2 separate regions of the Homo sapiens genome follow, and region 1 is linked to region 2. The links come from fine-mapping of genetic effects on plasma protein levels. A gene starts in region 2. The other region holds a variant in brackets. All regions are shown on one strand. Distances are between the middles of the regions.

Region 1 (11,452 bases), 24 kb after region 2:
CAGGGATCTAGAACTAGAAATACCATTTAACCCAGCCATCCCATTACTGGGTATATACCCAAAAGACTATAAATCATGCTGCTATAAAGACACATGCACACGTATGTTTATTGCGGCACTATTCACAATAGCAAAGGCTTGGAACCAACCCAAATGTCCATCAGTGATAGACTGGATTAAGAAAATGTGGCACATATACACCATGGAATACTATGCAGCCATAAAAAAGGATGAGTTCATGTCCCTTGTAGGGACATGGATGAAGCTGGAAACCATCATTCTCAGCAAACTATCACAAGGACAGAAAATCAAACACTGCATGTTCTCACTCACAGGTGGGAATTGAACAATGAGAACACTTGGACACAGGGTGGGGAACATCACACACCAGGGCCTGTTGTGGGGTAGGGGGACGGAGGGAGGGATAGCATTAGGAGATATACCTAATATAAATGACGAGTTAATGGGTGCAGCACACCAACATGGCACATGTATACATATGTAACAAGCCTGCATGTTGTGCACATGTACCCTAGAACTTAAAGTATAATAAAAAAATTTAAAAAAAACCTTGAAAAATGGTTAGAGGAATTGCTAACTAGAATAACCAGTTTAGAGAAGAACATAAATGACTAGATAGAGTTGAAAAACACAGCACAAGAACTTCGTGATGCATGCACCAGTATCAATAGCTGAATTGATCAAGTGGAAGAAAGGATATCAGAGATTGAAGATTAATTTAATGAAATAAAGAGTGAAGAGAAGATTAGAGAAAAAAGAATGAAAATGAATGAACAAAGCCTCCAAGAAATATGGGACTATGTGAAGAGACCAAACCTATGTTTGATTGGTGTACTTGAATGTGACGAGGAGAATGGAACCAAGTTGGAAAACATTCTTCAAGCTATTATCCAGGAGAACTTCCCTAAACTGGAAAGACAGGCCAACGTTCAAATTCAGGAAATACAGAGAACACCACAAAGATATGCCTTGAGAAGAGCAACCCCAAGACACATAATCATCAAATTCACCAAGGTTGAAATGAAGGAAAAAAATGTTATGGGCAGCCAGAGAGAAAGGTTGGGTAACCCACAAAGGGAAGCTCATCAGACTAGCAGCAGATCTCTCTACAGGAACCCTACAAGCCAGAAGAGAGTGGAGGCCAATATTCAACATTCTTAAAGAAAAGAATTTTCAACCCAGAATTTCATATCCGCCAAACTAAGCTTCATAAGTGAAGGAGAAATAAAATCCTTTATAGATAAGTAAATGCTGAGAGATTTTGTCACTACCAGGCCTGCCTTACAAGAGCTCCTGAAGGAAACACTAAATATGGTAAAAGAAAAACCATTACCAACCATTGCAAAAACATATTAAATGCCATCAACACTATGAAGAAACTGCATCAACTAACCAGCAAAATAACCAGCTAGCATCGTAATGAGAGGATCAAATTCAAACATAACAATATTAACCTTAAATGTAAATGGGCTAAATGCTCCAATTAACAGACACAGACTGGCAAATTGGATAAAGGTTCAAGATCCATCAATGTGCTGTATTCAGGAGACCCATCTCACATGCAAAGACACACATAGGCTCAAAATAAAGGGATGGAGGAATATTTACCAAGCAAATGGAAAGCAAAAAAGCAGGGGTTGCAATCCTAGTCTCTGGTAAAACAGACTTTAAACCAACAAAGTTCAAAAAAGACAAAGAAAGGCATTACATAATGGTAAAGGGATCAATGCAACAAGAAGAGCTAACTATCCTAAATATATATGCACGCAATACCGGAGCATCTAGATCCATAAAGCAAGTTCTTAGAGACCTACAAAGAGACTTAGACTCCAACACAATAATAGTGGGAGACATTAACACCTCATTGTCACTATTAGACACGTTGACGAGACAGAAAATTAACAAGGATGTTCAGGACTTGAACTCAGCTTTGGACCGAGCGGTCCTATTAGACATCTACAGAACTCTCCACCCCAAATCAACAGAATATACATTTTTCTCAGCACCACATCACACTCATTCTAAAACTGACCACATAATTGGAAACTGCTCAGCAAATGTAAAAGAACAGAAATCATAACGAATAGTCTCTCAGACCTCAGTGCAATCAAACTAGAACTCAGGATTAAGAAACTCACTCAAAACCACACAACTACATGGCAACTGAACAACCTGTTCCTGAATGACTACTGGGTAAATAACAAAATTAAGGCAGAAATAAATTCTTTGAAACCAATGAGAAGAAAGACACAATGTACCAGAATCTCTGGGACACAGCTAAAGCAGTATGTAGAGTGAAATTGATAGCACTAAATGCCCACATCAGAAACCTGGAAAGATCTAAAATTGGCACCTCAACATCACAATGAAAAGAACTAGAAAAGCGAGAGCAAACAAATTCAAAAGTTAGCAGAAGACAAGAAATAACTAAGATCAGAGCAGGACTAAAGGAGATAAAGACACGAAAAACCCTTAAAAATATCAACTAATCCAAGAGCTGTTTCTTTGAAAAGGTTAATAAGATACACAGACCACTAGCCAGACTAACAAAAAGGAAAAGAGAGAAGAATCAAATAGACACAATAAAAAATGATAAAGGGGATATCACCACTGATCCCACAGAAATACAAACTACCATTAGAGAATAATATAAACACCTCTATGCAAATAAACTAGAAAATCTAGAAGAAATGGATAAATTCCTAGACACATACACCCTCCCAATACTAAACCAGGAAGTTGTATCCCTGAATAGACCAATAACAAGTTCTGAAATTGAGGCAGTAATTAATAGCGTACTAATCAAAAAAAGCCCAGACCAGATGGATTCACAGCCAAATTCTACCAGAGGTACAAAGAGGAGCTGGTACCATTCCTTCTGAAACTATTTCAAACAATAGAAAAAGAGGGACTCCTCCCTAACTCATTTTATGAGGCCAGCATCATCCTGATACCAAAACCTGGCAGAGACACAACAAAAAAAGAAAATTTTAGGTCAGTATCCCTGATGAACATTGATGCAAAAATCCTCAATAAAATACTGGCAAACTGAATCCAGCAGCGCATCAAAAAGCTTGTCCACCACAATCAAGTTGGCTTCACTCTTGGGATGCAAAGCTTGTTCAACGTACACAAATCAATAAATGTAATCCATGACGCAAACAGAACCAATGACAAAAAACATATGATTATCTCAATAGATGCAGAAAAGGTCTTTCATAAAATTCAACAGCCCTTCATGCTAAAAACTCTCAATAAACTAGGTATTGATGGAACATACCTAAAAATAATAACAGCTATTTATGTCAAACCCACAGCCAATATCATCCTGAATGGGCAAAAGATGGAAGCATTCCCATTGAAAAGAGGCACAAGACAAGGATGCCCTCTCTCACCACTCCTATTTAGCATAGTATTGGAAGTTCCAGCCAGGGCAATCAGGCAAGAGAAAGAAATAAAGGGTGTTCAATTAGGAAAAGAGGAAGTCAAACAGTCTCTGTTTGCAGATGACATGATTGTATATTTAGAAAACCCCGTCGTCTCAGCCCCAAATCTCCTTAAGCTGATAAGCACCTTCAGCAAAGTCTCAGGATACAAAAATCAATGTGCAAAAATCACAAGCATTCCTATACACCAATAATAGACAAATGGAAAGCCAAATCATGAGTGAACTCCCATTCACAATTGCTACAAAGAGAATAAAATACCTAGAAATCCAACTTACAAGGGATGTGAAGGACCTCTTCAAGGAGAACTACAAATCACTGCTCAAGGAAATAGGAGAGGACAAAAACAAATGGAAAAACATTCCATGCTCATGGATAGGAAGGATCAATATCATGAAAATGGCTTTACTGCCCAAACTAATTGTAGATTCAATGCAACCCCCTCCAGCTACCATTGACTTTCTTCACAGAATTAGAAAAAACTACTTCAAATTTCATATGGAATCAAAAAAGAGCCAAGACAATTCTAACCAAAAAGAACAAAGCTGGAGCCATCACGCTACTTGATTTCAAACTATACTATGAGGCTACAGTAACCAAAACAGCATGGTACTGGTACCAAAACAGATATATAAACCAATGGAACAGACAGAGGCCTCAGAAATAACACCACATATCTACAACCATCTGATCTTTGACAATCCTGACAAAAACAAGCAATGGAGAAAGGATTCCCTATTTAATAAACGTTGTTGGGAAAACTGGCTAGCCATATGCAGAAAACTGAAACTGGACCCCTCTTTACACCTTATACAAAAATTAATTCAGGATGGATTAAAGACTTAAACATAAGACCTAAAACCATAAAAACCCTAGAAGAAAACCTAGGCATTACCATTCAGGACATAGGCATGGGCAAAGACTTCATGACTAAACACCAAAAGCAATGAACAAAAGCCAAAATTAACAAGTGGGATCTAATTAAACTGAACAGCTTCTGCACAGCAAAAGAAACTACCATCAGAGTGAACAGGCAACCTACAGAATGGAAGAAAATTTTTGCAATCTATCCATCTGACAAAGGGCTAATATCAAGAATCTACAAGGAACTTAAACAAATTTACAAGAAAAAAACAAACAATCCCATCAAAAAGTGGGTGAAGGATATGAACAGACACTTCTCAAAAGAAGACATTTATATGGTCAAGAAATATATGAAAAAAAGCTTATTATCATTGGTCATTAGAGAAATGCAAATCAAAACCACAATTAGATACCATCTCACACCAGTTAGAATGGCCATGATTAAGAAGTTAGAAAACAACAGATTTTGGAGAAATAGGAGCGCTTTTACACTGTTGCTGGGAGTGTAAATTACTTCAACCATTGTGGAAGACAGTGTGGCAATTCCTCAAGATCTAGAACCAGAAATACCATGTGACCCAGAAATCCCATTACTGGGTATATACCCAAAGGATTATAAATCATTCTACTATAAAGACACATGCACACGAATGTTTATTGCAGGAGTCTTCACAATAGCAAAGGCTTGGAACAAACCCAAATGCCCATCAATGATAGACTGGATAAAGAAAATGTGGCACATATGCCCCCATGGAATACTATGCAGCTATAAAAAAGGATGAGTTCATGTCCTTTGTAGGGACATGGATGAAGCTGGAAACCATCATTCTCAGAAAGCTAACACTTGAACAGAAAACCAAACATTGCATGTTGTCACTCATAGATGGGAGGTGAACAATAAGAACACATGGACACAGAGAGGGGAACATCACACACCGGGGTCTGTCAGGAGGTGGGGGGCTAGGGGAGGAATAGCATTAGGAGAAATATGTAATGTAGATGATGGGTTGATGGGTGCAGCAAACCACCATGGCATGTGTATACCTATGTATACCTGTGTAACAGACCTGCACGTTCTGCACATGTATACTTAAAGTATAATAATAATTTAAAAATTTCACCAGTTTTCAATTTGTATTAAAGATGTAAGCAGGCCGGCTAATGTTAAATAGTTGTGAGGTAAAACATTTTACCTATTCTCATAATAATACAAAGATCTAAGACCTTAAATTGGTAGTATTTTTTGGATCAGCACCATTACAAGCTACTATGTTATTTGTAAAATGCATTTCTGTCACCTTATAACTTTAATAATTCTGTCAAGGATCCGCTTGTATTGTCACTGTGAGAAAAGATCATTAGATGCAAAATGCATCATAACTATGCCTTACTTATGTTTGCACTATTATATGTTGTTTTGATTTTTATAATAGTTTAATAGTTTATTATATAGTAATCATTTTTTTTTTT[G/TG]AGATGAAGTCTCGCTCTGTCACCCAGGCTAGAGTGCAGTGGCGTGATCTTGACTCACTGCAACCTTCGCCTTCTGGGCTGAAGTGATTCTCCTGCCTCAGCCTACCGAATAGCTGGAGTTACAGGCATGTGCCACCATGCCCGGCTAATTTTTGTATTTTTACTAGAGATGGGGTTTCACCATGTTGGCCAGGCTGGTCTGAAACTCCTGACCTCAAGTGATCCATCTGCCTCACCCTCTCAAAGTGCTGGGATTATAGGTGTGAGCCACCGCGCCCGGCTATATAGTAATAATTCTAATATTGCTATATTTTATCCTAATATTACAGTCTACTAATACTGCTTCTTTATGTTTTGGATGAATGAAAACACTGGTTTGAGAGTTCTGACAGTTAGTAGAGGGTAAATACATTGAGAGACATTAACTGGAGAGGCGATTTTAGATCTTAAATTAATAAGGAAATGGAAAAATTAAATAAAATCTTACTTTGCACGATAGGTAGTAAGTTTATGGAACTCATTGCCCTAAGTTATACTTAATAGGTTAAAGAACACTTACATAAATACAGAGACTTTTGTTGATGCATAGCAAATATTAGAATTTGAAATGAAAGATATACTTTCAAATAACTAGTGCTTCACAAAAGCAGAACAGAAGCTACAGCTGGGATACTGAGGACCTTACGGTTGAAAGTGCCCAAGCATAGACCAGGTTTCACTGTTTGGGATGTTGTAAAGAAGTTTCCAGTACTGGGTGATTTTTCAACTGCCTCCAAGGGTTCAAGTCTATGATTAGTGATCATTTTGTATGTTCATGATTTCCTTGCCAAAGAGATGTAAGTGAGCTGGAAAAATATAACTATAAAACGTTATTCACCATCATGGTATTCCCCATGGCATTGCTTCTGACTGACAAACTCACTTTGCTGCAAAGTAAGTGCAGCAGTGGGCCCAGGCTCATAGACTTCACTAGTCTTACCATGTTCTCCACCATACTGAAGCAGCTGGTCTGATGAAACAGTGGAATGTCCTTCTGAAGACTCAGCTATAGCACCAGCTAGGTGGCAGTACATCAGAGGGCATGGACAAGATTCTCTACAAGGCTGAATATACTCTGAATCACTGTCCAGTATATGGTGCTGTTTCTCCAATAACTAGGATTCATGAGTCCAGGAATCAAAGGTGGAAATAGGAGTGACTCCACTCACTATTACCCGCAGGGACCCACTAACAAAATTTTTGCTTTCTGTTCTCATAACCTTATGCTCTGGTGGCCTAGGGATCTCAGTTCCTAAGGGAAGAATGCTCCCACCAGGAGACACAAAAATGATTCCATTGAACTGGAAATTAAGATTGCCACCTGGCCCCTTTGAGCTTCTCATGACTCTGAATCAATAGGCAAAGAAGTGAGTTATAATATTATACTGGGTGAGGTGGCTGATCCTCGCTACAGAAGAGAAATTCAACTGCTACTCCACAATTGAGGTAAGAAAGAACATGCTTGAATTCCAAGAGATCCCTTAGTGTGTCACTGAGTATTACCTTACCTTGTGATTATAATCAATGGAAAGCTACAACAGCCCAATCCAGGAAGGACTACTAATGGCTCAGACTCTTCAGGAATGAAGATTTGGGTCATTCTACCAGGTGAAGAACCATGACCAAATAAGGAGCTTGCTGAAGGGAAAAGGAACATAGAGTGGCTAGTGGAAGAAGGTAGCTGTAAGTATCAGCTACAAGTGACCAGTTACAAAAAAAAGAGGACTGTAATTGTTATGAATAGTCCTCCTTATTTTGTTTAGAATGTGAATATGTTTTAAATATAATTATATTTGTACGTATTAAGAAAATATCTTTGATTTTCACTCTCTCTGATTCTTTTGTCATGTAACTGCAGATGTATTGACTTTATATCATAGTTAAGTATTGTTAATTTTCAATCATAGTATTTCAGTTACTAGACATCAAGGAGAAGAGTGAATTTCAAAGACTTTGCCTCCTTTTCTGGGGAAGGGGTTAGTGCATTTTTAGTGGTATGCAGGATAATTGTATCATGTTTGGTGAAATTATGACCTTGTTATTGCCTTTATTTTGAGGTTAAGTATGGCTTAAGGAGATGTGTATGGGTGACAAGTTGACAGAGGTGGACTTGTGATGATTAATTTTATGTGTCAATGTGACTGGGACATAGGGTGCCCAGATATTTGGTTAAACATTATTCTGGTTATATTTGTGAGGGTGTTTCTGAGTGAGATTAGCATTTGAATTGGTAGACTGAGGAAAGCAGATGGCCAGTGTTTTTAGCCTTCATCCAATCTGTTGGAGGCCTGAATGGAACAAAAGGCAGGGTAAGAGAGAATTTGCTCTCTCTGCCTGACAGTTTGAATTGGGATATCAGTCTTCTCCTACACTTGGACTGGGACTTATACCACTGGCACTTCTGACTTTCAGGCCTTTGGACTTGGACTAGAACTACACCACCAGCTTTCTTCCACCACTTACATCATCAGTTCTCCTAGTCTTGGACCTTCAGACTTGGACTGGAACTATACCATCAGCTTTCCCGGGTCTCTAGTTTACAGACCGTAGACCATGGGACTTCTCAGCCTCCATAGCCATGTGAAGCAGTTCCTTATAATCTCTCTCTCTCCATATATATATATATATATATATATGTGTGTGTGTGTGTGTGTGTGTGTGTGTGTGTGTGTGTGTGTGTGTGTAAGATAGATATCTCTCCTATATACACATATATATGTATATATCTCCTATTAGCTCTATGTCTCTGGAGATCTCTGACTAATATAGTTGATCAATTTTTGCATCCATTCAGCAATAAACAAATATTTACTGAAAGTTACTATGTGCCAAGTACTACCAAAATAGATGTGTGTTCTCCTCTACCTCTGTGTTTTCATTTCTCTTCCAGTGACTTCCTCTCAAGTTCCTGTCCTTGGGGAAGCAGCTTCGGACTCAGATAGATCTTGGTTTTTATTTCTACATCACTACTTACTAGCTTTATAGCCTTGAAGTAGCTCCTTAGGTCCTTTGGGTCTCAATTACATCATCTGTATAATAGGAATAATAATAATAATACCATTTAGTGTTGCTGATAGGATTAAAAGGCTTGATGTTGGAAAATTGCCTAGCTCAATGCCTGGCATGTGGGAGGCAGACAACAAATGTTAGTCTCTTACCTTTCTTCCCCTCCCCATAGAAAATTGGGAGACTTCACCAGTCACCATCAGTTTCATTCAAAACTACCTACTTTCCCTGTATTACTGCCTTACATGTCCTGCCACTTTCAGAATTCAAATGACTTTCCATCTAAAAATACAATCTTCATTCACGTGTTTGCTCACATATGGGCTCAGACATGTTCACACAGAGATATACATTATGCTTAATGGCAACTCAAGTGGACAATAGTGAACTCAAACTTCAAAAAAAATTCTGACAAGATGTTGGCAACACAAGACTACATTCTTTACACCATTTATTCAGTGGTTCATCTTAAAAGGGGGAAAACCTGATCAGCCGTCAAACAATACACTAATTGGAATCTTTGTAGAATTACCCGCCTTTTAACGATGAGGTATGCAGAATGGGCAGGAATAAAAGAAGGGTCTGAAAAGTGTGTGAAAAGGAATAACAGATGGTACTTGAGTGAAATAGAATAGAAAAATCTGAGTAAAGGAAGGAAGAAAACAGAAAAGGAGAGATTGAGCATGCAAAGCTAAAGAGCCTTGGGCGTTTTATCAAGGATAGTTAGTCCTTGGAATGGCTAGCTTCCAGCTCCACTAATTACCGTCTGATGGCTGAATCTGGTTGCTATTTTTATTTACCAAGTTGAGACATTTCCACTCTTGCCTTTGGAATGCCATTCTGAGTTGTGGTATCTAAATGAATTCATGCCACACAATCAGTTGAAAGATACTACAAAAACAAAAAAATAGCTGAGTGAAGTGGAAGCTAAAGACAAAACCCACAGATATTTCAATGCTGCTTTTATTAATTCAAGCCAGCACTTGCCAGTGAAGTACTAACTAGAGACCTGGCACATGACCAAAATCTGTGAACTGCTTGGAAGCCTAGGTGCCTATGGACTATGATGCCTGTTCTATTATTCCTGCCACTGGGGTAGCAATTAGACCATGGCAACCAGAATCTGTGTAGGTTAGGGATCCCCCTACACATGAACTTAAGACAAATTTCAAAGTGGGGTGACTCCATGGATTCTTCCTTCATCCGAGTTTTATTTCAGGTGTCAATGGTCCTTGAAAATCTACAGGACATCAAAGTCAATCCAAGCAAAAATCTAGAATATCTACATGCTTAGCAGATTTCCATGGGTCCCTGTCTCCTTCACAAGATTAGAATCTTCCTATGCCTGGAACTAGACACATCTTAAAGTTTATTTTGTCTGATATAATATAGCCACTCCAGCTCTCTTATGGTTACTATTTGCGTAGTGTATTTTTATTCCATCATTTTTCTTTCAACCCACTTGCACCTTTCAAGCTAAAGTCTTTCTCTTTTAGAGGGCATGTAGATCAACTTTATTCTTTTATCAGTCTGAAAATCTCTGCTTTTTGATTTGGGTGTTTAGATCATTTACCTTTAATGTAATTATTGATATGGCCAGAGTTATATTTGCCATATTGCTGTTTGTTTTCTATATGTCTCCTGTCTCATGTGTTCCTCTGTTCCTTATTTACTGTCTTTTTTTTGCTAATGCTTGTAATGATGCCAGGTCTTTTGTTTCTGGCAAAAATTCTTTCTTTCTCTGGGATTATTAATAAAATAATATAGTTGGTTTGCATAATAAACAAGGCCAAATATGCTATCATTCTTAGTGACATTATCTTACCCATCTTTCCCCCATCACTCTTTGCTCTTTGCCCCATCCCACTTTTGCTTGAAGAAGTAGGTAAAGAAGTAATTATTCTCCATGCAGACTATGGAGAATTCTAGTGTGCCATATGTGTATGTGTATGTGTATAGCAGTTATTGGCTCAGAAGGAGAAGGAGGCGAGTGGGTAATTTTCTTCCTTATTGTCAACTTCAAAGCAAGGGAAAGTATTTGATGACCATCATCCTTTTTTTACTAGAGAAAAATTAAGAAATATAATATTATAGTTTTTAAAAGTACAGGGTACTATATTCTTTATGATTTTTAGCATATAATTTCTGGTACTGGTATGATGGCTATTTTAAAATTATTTCTTGTGGTTTTCAAATTATCTACATGTGTATACATCCCCCTTTTACCATAAATGTTTTCTTAACAATTAATATTCACATATTTTTAAGCAATTAAAATAATATTGCTGTTATAAAGAATAAATAGACATAATCTTCAGTCTTCTTAATTCATGATCACTTCTGTTTGGTGAAATTACACTTGACATCTGCCTATGCGGATCACATTATTTTTATAATCAAAGTAAATGAAGGTAAGGAAGTAAATGTTGTGATATTCTCTGGATGTACAAATAATAAATCTTGAGGTATACCATTTATTTTCCAGTGAATATATCCAGATTCTTCCTTAGTAACTCCACTGTATTCTCTTCCTGGATAAGGGGTGAAGAGAGAGAAAAAGCACTTACTTTACAGTAAGAGAGAAAAGATAGGGCAGTGAAAATGTG
Region 2 (11,452 bases):
CTCTCTAAGTTATAGAAAATGATATAACCAAGTTTTAAATTATATGAAAATTTTAAAGACACCAAGACATACTATAGTCTTAAATTCCAATAATTCAGAAGTTCAAAGACAACATCAAAGTCCATTTCTTTCCATAAGGCTAACTCCAATATACTAGCTTTATCCTTAAGCTAGTTGACATCGCAGTTGCAAGATGGCTGTAGTTGTTCCAAATTTCACATATAAACTTGACAATATTTTCTTTAACAAATATCTCTCTTAGGAATGAAAATTCTTTTCCCATAAGTCACCCAGCAGATCTCATTGGTCAACCTTGCATTACATGCCCATGGCTAAATCAGACACAGCCCAGATGCCTGGGACCAGCCTAATCACCCTTCAGCATCACCTCAATTTTTTAGCTATGCAGAAGAGGATGGTAACTCAATAAATGGACTTCTGCTAGAAAGGAAGATGACAAGGGGCTGAAATTGGTTAAGTATGCTTCAGGGCTGAGACAATTTCCTTTCCCCATGTTTGGATTTTTTTCCAAATAAACTCCAACCTCTCTCAGCCATGTTTTAAGTTTTCTCTGATTCCACCTTGAGCCTAACACACAGCCTTACATAAAGTAGATACCTTATAAGAATATTATCAAGTATTAGTTTTATGAAATTCACTGTAGCCAGATCAATAAAGCCTCTATGGATCACCTGAAGGGGCATAGGAATCACTGTCATACACAGAGTCTATTGTCTCATGATTTGCAGTGCTAGGATTCTCCCCTGTAGGGAGCCACTCTTCTGTATGTTCTGCTGGTAAATGATTGGTCACTGAACAACTGGAAAAAAAGAACTCCACCAACCTTCCATTTCTTTCACTTGCCAATCAGAGCGGTGATCTTTCATGGTTTCTCTTGTTTTATGCTGTGCTAAATCTTTTACTAATATCCCAAGCTGAGCAGTGTTGGTAGTCAAGACTTATGGCTTTAGTGGTAGAATTTATGTGATGCCTGGACACTTTTGGCCCCAAATATTTTCCCCATTCTTCCTGAAATTCTTGACTTTATACACATTGACTGAACATGTGTCTTTATTTTGCTGAATGTCTAAAATTACATCATGAGAAGCTCATCTCTTTACATTAACAAGCTTCTACCTTTTAATATCTCCAGGGCTGTCAGCACATGAAGACAGGGAGTAGTCATCATCCACTTCGGAAGGAATTTAACTGACACAGCCGCTCACAGCCACTAACTCTTGATGTTGAAATCTACCTGTCTTGGTGATCATCCCACAAGGTGGTAAGGGGTAGGTAACACTGGAATTTTAATCTTAGGAAAGTGGGGAGGCAGTGATGATATTTAAGCAATCACTTCCAAACCAGACCATACATCAGAAATATATGAGCCATTGTAAATACTGAATCCTAAACCCCAGTCCATAAATTTAAGTCAAACAGTGGCTCAGGACCTAGTATTAAGAGAGCAAAGCTTAGCTGAGGTTGGGCAGGTATAACTGCTAAGCCATAGGGGAGCAAAGTTACTTTATCAGAGGGCGGCCTAAGTCCCATTAAGGGGCTGAGGATGAGACCAGAGAGGTGGTTTAGGGTGGGACCCAGCAAAGGTAGGTTACCTCAAGCTTTCCTTTTTGTTGCAAAAGTAAAAGTTCTCTACTTTATAATTTTGCTTGGGATTGACCCTTCTAGCATTGGATAATGGTCAGTTGCAAAGAGATGAGTGAAAAGGGGTGAAAGCAACAATGCAATGAAGGCAAAGGGAGTATTTGGAAAATATTTTCACACTAAATATGGTATGATCAGGTGTAGTCATAACAAAGAATGGTGTATATAGATGGCTTTAGAGTGTGTACATGTGTGGGCATGTGTGTGGTGTGTGTGTGTGAATGTGTATTTGTGTTCAGGAAAGCATACAGTAAAGAAAAGATTGGATAGGTAGAATGTACCTTTTTATGACATGCCAAGAAATTGGCACTTTACCCTACCTGAGATGGGGAGCCACTAACATTTGAAACAAAGCAGTAATTGGAAACATATAAGTGTCTTAGAAAGATATCATTAGTGAAAATGAAGAGAATGGGTTGGAGAGATAAGAAAAGAAAATCCAGTTTAAAAGTTACATACAGACATAAGATGAGGGACTGACTGGGTGGCAGGAGTTGCATGGATGGGAGGAGAGCCAAGAGAATTTGGAGAGTGGCTGTGAGGTTGAAAACATGGGGACAAATTCCTGGCTTTCATGTTTGTGTGATAATAATACTGCCATTAAACAATGGTAGCCAATAGAGGAGAAAATTCTGGAGGACACGTATTAAATTCAGTTTTGGAAATGTTGAATCTGGCTTACTTACAGACTGTCTAGCTGGAGAAATTTGGTGGCTGATGGAAATACTGATCTGGAACTCAGAAGGGGAGGCTGGCTGGAGATAGGGACCTGTGCAGGGAATGGGCCCAGAGACAATCTGCAGAATGAAGAGGAGGATTCAGGATGAAACTCTGCAAACACCAACAAGGAAAGAGCCTGTGAAGGAGATGACGGGAGAGCAGCGAGGAAAGGAGGAGAAAAACAGGAAGAGAACAGAAGCCAGAAGTACAGGATGTTTCAGGAGGAAATTAAATATCAAAAGAAATATTTTTTTTACAATAAGAAAAATTAGAATATTTACAGACTGAGGGGAAGTTACATTAGGGAGAGAATTTGAAGACGTGCACTGAAGAGGGATGAGTGCTGGGGCAGGGTTTCAGGGATAGTAAGAAAAGATGTGGTCTAGAACCTGGGTGGAAGGACTATCCTTGACCTGTGAACATACTGGAGAAAATACGTGATGGCCTTCATTTCAAAATTACATTTGCCTTCTGCTAATGGCCTATATTTAGTTTATAGATTATCTAGGCCTCTTATGTTCTCTCTTTTTCATCCTCAGACTGCCCATTTACCATTTTCATGGTATTAAGCACTTAGAAATGAGCACTGAAAGGTGATAAATATAGGACTAAACTATGAGTACATTTTCTTCTTAAGCACCTGTGAAAAGGTTTCTGGAAAGCAAATTTGAATGTAAGTGTTAAAATAAGATTTGAAGGTGATATGTTTTTAAAGTGGTTTGCATGTATGCTAGAGATGATACAAGATGTCTAAACACACATGTGTTTTATACATATTAACAGGTATATATATGTATATACAATTGTATATACATAACACGGCATATTGTATACTCAAGGAACAGGTTTTCTCTTAATTTAAGATCATCATAATGAAGCTCTGTCACATACATAGCTTTTAAATTTGAATTTTTGTATGTGATATGATGCAATTGTACATACTATAATTTTATAACAGTTATGTGTGTGTGTGTGTGTAATGATAGTGAATGAGAAATTTTATACAGATAGGGTAATGCCATACAAAATTTTAGATACTACTGAGCTAGAGATTTCACTTATTCATGTTAACCTGGGATACTCATGGTACCAAAAAACGATGCTGCTTCTCCAGGAACCTCAAGTGATATCACAAATGAGAGAGCTTTCTTATGAGGATCTTAAATTAAGAGAAAACCTGTTCCTTGAGTATACAAATGGCTGGAGTAGGAGGAGGGAATAAATGCACAAAACTTTTGCAGATGTTATTTTCGATCATCTCTGCTTGCTTGCCCTGAGGTGTCCTTATTAACTCCAGGTTAAGTCTCTGTTCCTGACTTCATGCCTTGCAGCGTTACATTCCATTAAAGAATTTCTCACTGCTCTTTACATAACAAGCCTCAACATTTCAAAGATAAGAAAATGATGTTATGTTTCCACAGCTTATTTTAATACTGGGTAATTACAGAGAGATGAAAAGCTTGGGTTTATATTTCTATTAGCTCTAGTTGTATTCCAGAGACTCATTTTCAATGTCAAGTACAACTTTACCTGAAATCCGTAGATTAGGGTTGGTGGCCCCTCAAAACAACTCATCTGGTTCCCGGAGAAAGTATCTGAAGCACCCAATACAGGTGAGACAGAAAACCTAAGATGCCCATTCTCTGCTCGGGCTGGGGACAGTGGTGCTATTTCTCTCTTATCTCTGACCTGGAGAAAATGCCACCAGGTTGACGTGGACTAGGATTCATTCCTCCACAATAAAGAATAGCAAGTGGCTGAATGTCAGTCTCAAAGGAGGACAGCTTAGGAAATATTTATCTTCTTTGTAAAAAAAAAAAAAAAAAACCACACACACACTTTAAAATCAGAGACAACTTTTTTGTTTTGTTTTGATCGCTGTTCAAACTACATTATACAAACGTGTCTCCTTCTCCCTCCAAATAAACTAAAATTCTTAAATTTGACCACACTCTAGCTCTGCCTAATGGTCAGGGAAAAAGTACTCAGGCGATGGTCCCACAAAAGCTCTCCACCCCAGCCTTATTTCCTCCTCTTAGTGTAAAAGAACTCAGGAGGTGGGCGGGCCCCACTGCCACAGCACTACAGTTAGAGCGGCTGCTCCGGCTTATTCTCTCATTGCGGCATCTAGGATCCAGAAGTGAAAAGAACTTTTCCTAGCCTAAGTTTACATTCGTCGAATAGACAATGTTACAACAATAAGAGGAAGGCAGAAGGGAAGGAAGAATTCCCCTCTGCCAAGTATTTAAGTGGCGCTTGGTTTATTCCAAGTCCCCCCGGGAAGAAACACAGCGCTTCGTCCTCAAGTAAGAAATAGAGGCATTATTCACATCCTTGGGTTGAAAAATAAGCATTTTGGGGCTCGCAGGCTTCTGCAAAGCCAGCAAGCACCGCGCTGGGGAGCTGCAGGCCGCCATCAGCAATGGATTCCGGATTTCCCTGGTCTCTGGCAGGCGCGGCACCTGTCTGAGCCAGGGGAAGTTGGGCTGCAGGACTCGCGGTCTCCAGGACACCCGCGGATCCCCACACTGTCCATGCTTGAGTGCGTGCGTGTCTGTCTGTGTGTGTGTGTGTGTGTGTGCGTGTGTGTACCTAAAACAAAGCACTCACTGAGATGACTTTGGAGGGTGCTTAACAGACAGGGCGAGACGCGCCTAATGGGGACGCAAGGCCTGGGATAGCAGGAAGGGAACGAAGAAGTATCTCTTTCCAAGCAGGTCCTGGTGGCTGGGAGCCCGAGTCCACGTGGAATCCGAGGGAACACACGGAGCTCGCTCCCTAGTTCCGCCCAATCCCTCCAGCGAGCCCCAGGAAGCCGCGCGGGTCCCTCCTGCAGCCGATGCAGAGCGAAATCCCCGCTTACCTTGACTGAGCGCTAACACCAGCAGCAGCGGCAGCGGCGCGGCCCCTGTCCGTTCTGGCCCCATCCTGGGTCTGACCGGGGGACCGTAGTTGCGCTGGGTTTGCAGAGGTTTGCAGAGGATACCCTTGGCCGAGGGATACGAGAACCTGCACACTCTAGAAGCTGTCCAGAGGGCTTCTCTCCCCCGCCCGGTGAGAGCAGGGAAAAGTTTCTGGGCAGCTCCTGCAGCGCCGAGGGCCCGCCCCAGCCCGCCCCTCCTGATTCCGCAAACACCGGATCTGCTCCGGCCGCGCCCCGCCCCACCCCGGCCCTGCGGCCCCGCGGGCTGCACCTCGGCTCGTCCACACGCGGGGCACCGCACCTTGGCTCCCGTACAGCGGCCCAGCCCCGGCAGCCTGGAGGCGGTGGGGATGGGGATGGCGCCCTGGCAGGCTTTCCTGCCCTGGACGGGACGGGTGGGCATATCCGACGGGCGAGCGCCCGCCCTGGCACCACTCCGCCCCCGCAGCCTGTCGCCAGCACGCAGGAGATGCCCCAGTCCCCGGGAGAACGTGGCCCCTCCGCAGCCCTTGGCAGCGCCCGGCTCCTGGCAGCGGGTGCCGAGGGCACTAGCCCTAAACCACAGTGCCTAGGGGCTGCGCGGTGCGTCCCTTTCTCTGTTTTTCCTAAGTGGGTGGAGAAAGGGACAAAAATAAGCGCAGAATGACCAGGTTAGAAACTAACTCATCAGGAAAGAAGATCTGCTCACAAGTTATGATTATCCAAGGTGATATTTAAGCAATACCTGCTGCAAGAGCTGTGTGTGTGTGTGTGTGTGTGACAGAGAGACAGAGAGAGAGAAATCATCATTACTTCCTCTCCTCCGAGATAATTAAGAGCTGATTTAATGACTGAGTTTAGGAGATTAACTTCAAGGCCAGAGAAAAGGCTGAGAGCCCATACATGCACTTGTGACTCTCCCTGTCTACATTACACCATGACATAGACTGTGACCATTTTCTTCCATTATTTCAGTCTCACATCTGGAAAGAGAACATTCTATATCCGAGATTTTTAGTTAAAAACCTAAGAAATAGGATATTAATTTTTCTTGTCTGAATCTTATGTTTTATCCAAAAGTTTGGCCACAAATTTCCAGCACATTGCTGAAACCAGAATTCTTCCAGTGACTACTTTTGTGAAGGAACGAACTGTTTTCATAAATCAAGCTTAAGGAGTTATGAGTCTAATAATCATCATTATTGTCATCATTCCAGATCTTCATGGAATGCTACTATGAGCTGAATGGGATGCCTGAGATACTGCCTCTAGGAAGCAAAGTGGCTCAAGGTGGGAAGGACTTAATAATTCATAAAAATCAAGCTCTTCTCTTTACTATAGATAGGGCTGATGTGTCACATTGTTAAAGTATTAAATTGGTATGCATCAGATGTTGCTGCTGATGGCTTATGACTAATACCCTTTGAACCCAAATTATATAGTCCCAGGCTCTTTCCTGTTTTCTTATCAGTCACTTACTGGCTGCACTTACTCACCTTGACAAACACCTGAAGGCATTTTTTTCTGAATTGTCTGGGGTACTCACCTGCTTACTAAAACTCCGGCTATCACCTGAGAGCTCTTAGGTGGCTGCTCACTAACCGGTGACACGATTTTGACGCTCCTTACAGACTTTTTGAAGGAAGTCAGCCAGGTTTCAGGGAGATGAATATCTGTCTGTTTCCTTCTGACTCACTGAAATGTGAGTAAGTGTTTGGAACAGACCTGTGTTTGGGAGGCAGGACACTTCCTTTAATGTGAGACAGGAATTTGTGTTTTATCTCTGGGGGTGGGGGGAAATAACATGCATCCTTCTTGGTTTTTGTTCTCAGAACTGGACAAATTAACATTACACTGTCATGAAGTGCAGAATAAGTCAGGAGCTACGATTTTCCAGAGCCAGGCAAAACTTTTAGAAACAAAGAACAAACTCCTGCCTCACATTAATTTTAAGAGGATAAAGTGTTCCTGAGACAAAGTAGTTTGAGAACCCCTTCCAGGGTGCTCTCCTGCCTAGTTGCAGTTGTGAGGGACACCACATTCAGAGCAGGAAATATGGAAGGTTAAGCTGGGGCTTCTCAAACTCTTTGGTCTCAAGAGCCCTTTACTCAGTAAGTCCTTTAACAAAAATCCTATTATGTGTGAACATAAATAATGTACATTTTATGAAAAATAACTATATTTCTCCAAATGAAAGAATCCGGGAGAAGAGTGGCATTGCTTTACATTTTTGCTAATATTTTAAATATCTGGCTTAAAAACAGACATTTGGATTCTCAGATCTGCTTCTGCATCCAATCTGTTACGGCATGTAGTTTTGGTGAAATTATATTGATTAATCTGGTGTTACACAGATATGGACTTAGAAAAACAGGAGATAATTCTGGATAATCCCCTGATACTACACCAAAACTCAACAAGTGGTAGTTTCTTAAAGTTGCAATGTGGAATCTGAAACCATATCAATGGTTTTTCCTATTCCGTGGCATTAAAATTCATTGATCTGCTGGCCTCTCCGTGTCCCTCTCCCTTTCTCTTCCTGTGAGTGCCCAGTGATGAAGAATACAATGACCACCAGTCCCCATCCTTGTTCTTGCACCATGAGGGCAAATGTCAACACAGTGAAAAACGCAGTAACGTCTCAGTATTGTTATGAAAATAGTTTTGACTTCACTGGCCACTTGAAAGGATCTTGAGAGACCCAGAGACCCTACTCCAAAAAGCACTCAGGGGTGAAGTGAGGCCTTCCCCTCTTTTTCTTTTCCTTAGCTCAAGACAGAGTTTTGTTGGGGAACACGGCTCAGATAAGTTTCCCCAGTGTTTCCTTCTGATCTGTTGTATCGTCATGCCCTGCCCTCCTTTGTTTATCCCGTTTTCATATAGACAATCACCCAAACCAGAAACCTCTGCTTTCTTCCCCAGGTGCACCACCAGCCCCCTGCTAACATCCCATTCCAATTCTGTCTTTACACCCTACTAGGGTTTTCTGTGCCATCTCCTATTTTCTGTTCCACTGCTAATCTCTCTTTGGTTCAAACCCTTTTGATCTTTCACCATGGTGACAAACTCCCATATAATCTCTCTGTGCTTCCTTCTCTCCTGTTCCAGTTCATCTTTTATACCTGTTGTCACAGTTATCCAAAAATGCAGGACTGATCTGCTGAAAATCATTAGATGTCTTCAGGACATTCAAAGTACCCTAGGGTTTAAGGTCACGATTTGGCTCCAACTCACCTCTGTGGGCTCCGTGGCTATCTTTCCCTCTTGCACACTATGTTTAGGCCAAATTCACGAGTTCACTGGCCTGCCTTTCCCATTCTTCATTGTCAATTCCTTATTTTTCTACTTAGAATAGCTTTCTTTTTTTCTTCCATTGTTTCAAATTCTACTTCAAGGCTCCAGTCAAATTCTATATTATTAGCCCAGCCTTTCCCATTTTCTTCACTGAGAACTAATCATTCTTCTTTCTTGGCTCTGGTTTCCTCTAGCTTTTTTTTTTTGTTTTTGTTTTTTCCCCCAAATAAACTTTCTTTTGTATGTATTACAGAGTAATATATTATTGAGTTATATGTGTATATTCTACCTTCTCATTTAAATGCTGGGTCTCTGAAATCTTATACATTTTTGTTATAAGAGTCTAGTCCTATACCTAGTAAATAAATTTCTAATAAATATTAATAGTTATTATAATACATTGAAATGAGTTTCCTAACAATTCCACATTCTTCTCCCTAGACCTGAAAAGGGTGGTAAATATGAACTTCTAGGTAAGTCCTAGTAATTTTGAAGTGAAGTAACCAGTGGCTTCTCAAATGTTACTCAGTGAATCCATGGGATGAGTGAGTAAAGCTTAGAATCCATTGAGCTTGACTCACACACAAGTCTCTAAGCACTGGCTGGGGTGCATAATGGCCAAAATAAAAGAGACACTCCTAACTTAAACACAAACAAAACAAATAAAATAATTCTAGATTTCCTAGCTTCCTGGACCCATCAATACACTGATGAATCATATTCATATTTCGATTCTAGCACAACTACGGTTGACTGGCCTTACTTGTTTTCATGCTTGTGGCAGACATGCAAAGCTATTTGCCAGCTCTGCCAATAGGGCTTTCTCAGAGTCTTCCATGATCCCCTTCTAGAAGTCACTGAGTCACATAATCCTGCCTCCTTGTCGCTAAGCCAAACACCTGACCAAGCTCGATCAATCTCCTAGGGATTTACATTCATGGTATACAGATTCTAGAATCTTTGCTGATCACATGAAATGGAAATTTGTGTTCACTTTGTACAACCATTTTCTTTCTTTTTTCCCCCCCGCCTTTTTTTTTTTTTTTTTTTTTTTGAGATGGGGCTTTGTGCTGCCTAGGCTAGAGTGCAGTGGTATTCATAGTTCGTTTCAGCCTCAAACTCCTGGGCTCAAGTGATCCTGCTACCTCAGCCTCCCGAGTAGCTGGGCAGGCATGCACCACCACACCTGTCTAATTTTTTAATTTTTCTTTTTATAGAGATGGGGTCTCACTGTGTTGCCAAGGCTGGTCTGGAACTCTTGGCCTCAAGCAATCCTCCTGCCCCACCTTCCCAAAGTGTTGGAATTATGCCCAGCCCATTCATTTTCTTCAATGAGTGTAGAAAAAGCCAATCTGCACCATTTATCAAAAACAGAGACAGATATGAGAGACCAAGAAACTGAGGTGTGCATGCATGAGACAGACAGACAGAGAAAGAGAGAGACACGGAGAGAGATTGTTCTAGGTCTTTTAATTTTGTTTGCCATTGTGTGAGATCTGACTGTTCTTCCTGGGTTTACATCCATGAAATATCTGTGTATCATTCTATTACTTTCAGTGGCAAAACCCACAATTATTTTTGGACCAACCTAATAATAGTTTCTCTTTTTCTCTGAAGCTAATTTGAGCAGGTTTCTAGTCCTTGTACTAGACTACGTTTAAGACATATCTGTCTCTCTTCTGGGAAATCTTAAGGACTTCCAAGTTAACATGTCTCATTAACTTCTTTCACTCACAGTTCCTAAAATAGAGCCTGACACAGAGTTGATGCTCAATGAATGTTTGTTCCCCAAATGAATAAACATACTTCTTCAACTAGTCACTAATGTCTTGATTTGTTAAGATGAACCCGAAAAAAAAAGAATTTTATCTCTTAGGACATGGAAAAGTTCAATGAAGGGGAAACATTGTTCATCCATACTTTAGACTTTTTTAAAGAAATGTGTCATATGAAGGATTAAGGCTGCTTATGGCTATCTGCTACTCTACTCTGTCTGGAAAACTTGCATGTTCCAGTTAGAGGGCAGTTATTTTTCAGGGGTGAAAAATAAATCATATTTAAACTAGCCCAAGTCAAAGAATAGTTAATTGCAAGGATATGAAGAACTTTCTGAGAACCCAAAGACAGGAATTATAGCCCTTGGGTACTTAAAGTGGAGACTGGGAAGATAAGAACCTAATTAACTCTCTGCAACTTTTAGGGAATTCATGACTTGTTGGCTTTGCTTCTCTGTGTGTACCTGCTCTATTGTCTTCTCTGTAGGCTGACTTCCTCCTTAATTACTCATCATTTCCATTGCCCTGTAACTTCAACTTGCAAGTGCCTTTAGTTTTCCATGGCTTGTCTCCAGTTAGGATTCTATAGACTTAATTTTAACTCAGTAAAGAAAGGGTCTTCTTCAGTTTGATACACTGTATGACCACACCAGATGATTTTTCTTTTTTTAAAATTTCCTGCCAAGAACACGAACTTTTGTTCTTTAGGTAGTTATTATTCTTTTCTGAAGCCAAGACCTCTCCTTTTCAGCCATTTTGCAATTTAACTTTTAGTGCATCTTGAGTGACATGAACTCCTATTTTGTTTGAAGTAATTTTGTTGGTACCATTTAGATTGGAGCCTGTCCTTTTAGATGGAAACACATTTCAAATGTGTAACATCAAAAAGTCAAACAGAGCCAATTTTACCATTAGCATCTATTTGACTGGCAGACTAGTGAACTTTGCTTGCCCATCAAAAGAATGGAATCAGTGAAGCTGGGAGAGCCCAGAAAGATTTTGAACTTCAGTTTTTCCAGGAATCTCAGTTTTAATCACAATCTAAATATTTTCTGCTTTCACATTTCCTACTGTGCAGTATGAGAAAGCAACAGCTAGT

Direction of the effects. Alleles are on the strand shown, and positions count from the first base shown. The strength of an association depends on the size of the effect and on how common the allele is.
As copies of G replace TG in region 1, the plasma level of the protein whose gene starts at base 5,426 in region 2 goes up (strong association).

The links. PIP is the chance, under the fine-mapping model, that this variant and not a neighbour inherited with it causes the effect. Protein levels are from antibody-based Olink assays in UK Biobank. Linkage for the fine-mapping came from a reference panel and not from the study's own genotypes, which makes the PIPs less certain.
Region 1: its variant is fine-mapped to the plasma level of the ITGA2 protein (UK Biobank, PIP above 0.99).

What each region holds. Positions count from the first base shown.
Region 1 is chr5:52,959,780-52,971,231 of GRCh38, reverse strand. All of the region lies in intron 2 of ITGA2-AS1 (ITGA2 antisense RNA 1), which reads left to right. Among named protein-coding and RNA genes, the nearest start is that of ITGA2, 24 kb to the left of the region's middle. The variant G/TG (reference allele first, on the strand shown) is at 5,802.
Region 2 is chr5:52,983,326-52,994,777 of GRCh38, reverse strand. ITGA2 (integrin subunit alpha 2) reads right to left here and starts at 5,426. Exons shown (of 30, transcript NM_002203.4): 1 at 5,246-5,426. The coding sequence starts at 5,309. ITGA2-AS1 (ITGA2 antisense RNA 1) reads left to right here and starts at 4,492. Exons shown (of 4, transcript NR_186583.1): 1 at 4,492-4,688; 2 at 6,502-6,574. RefSeq lists a silencer at 5,473-5,622 and an enhancer at 6,087-7,286.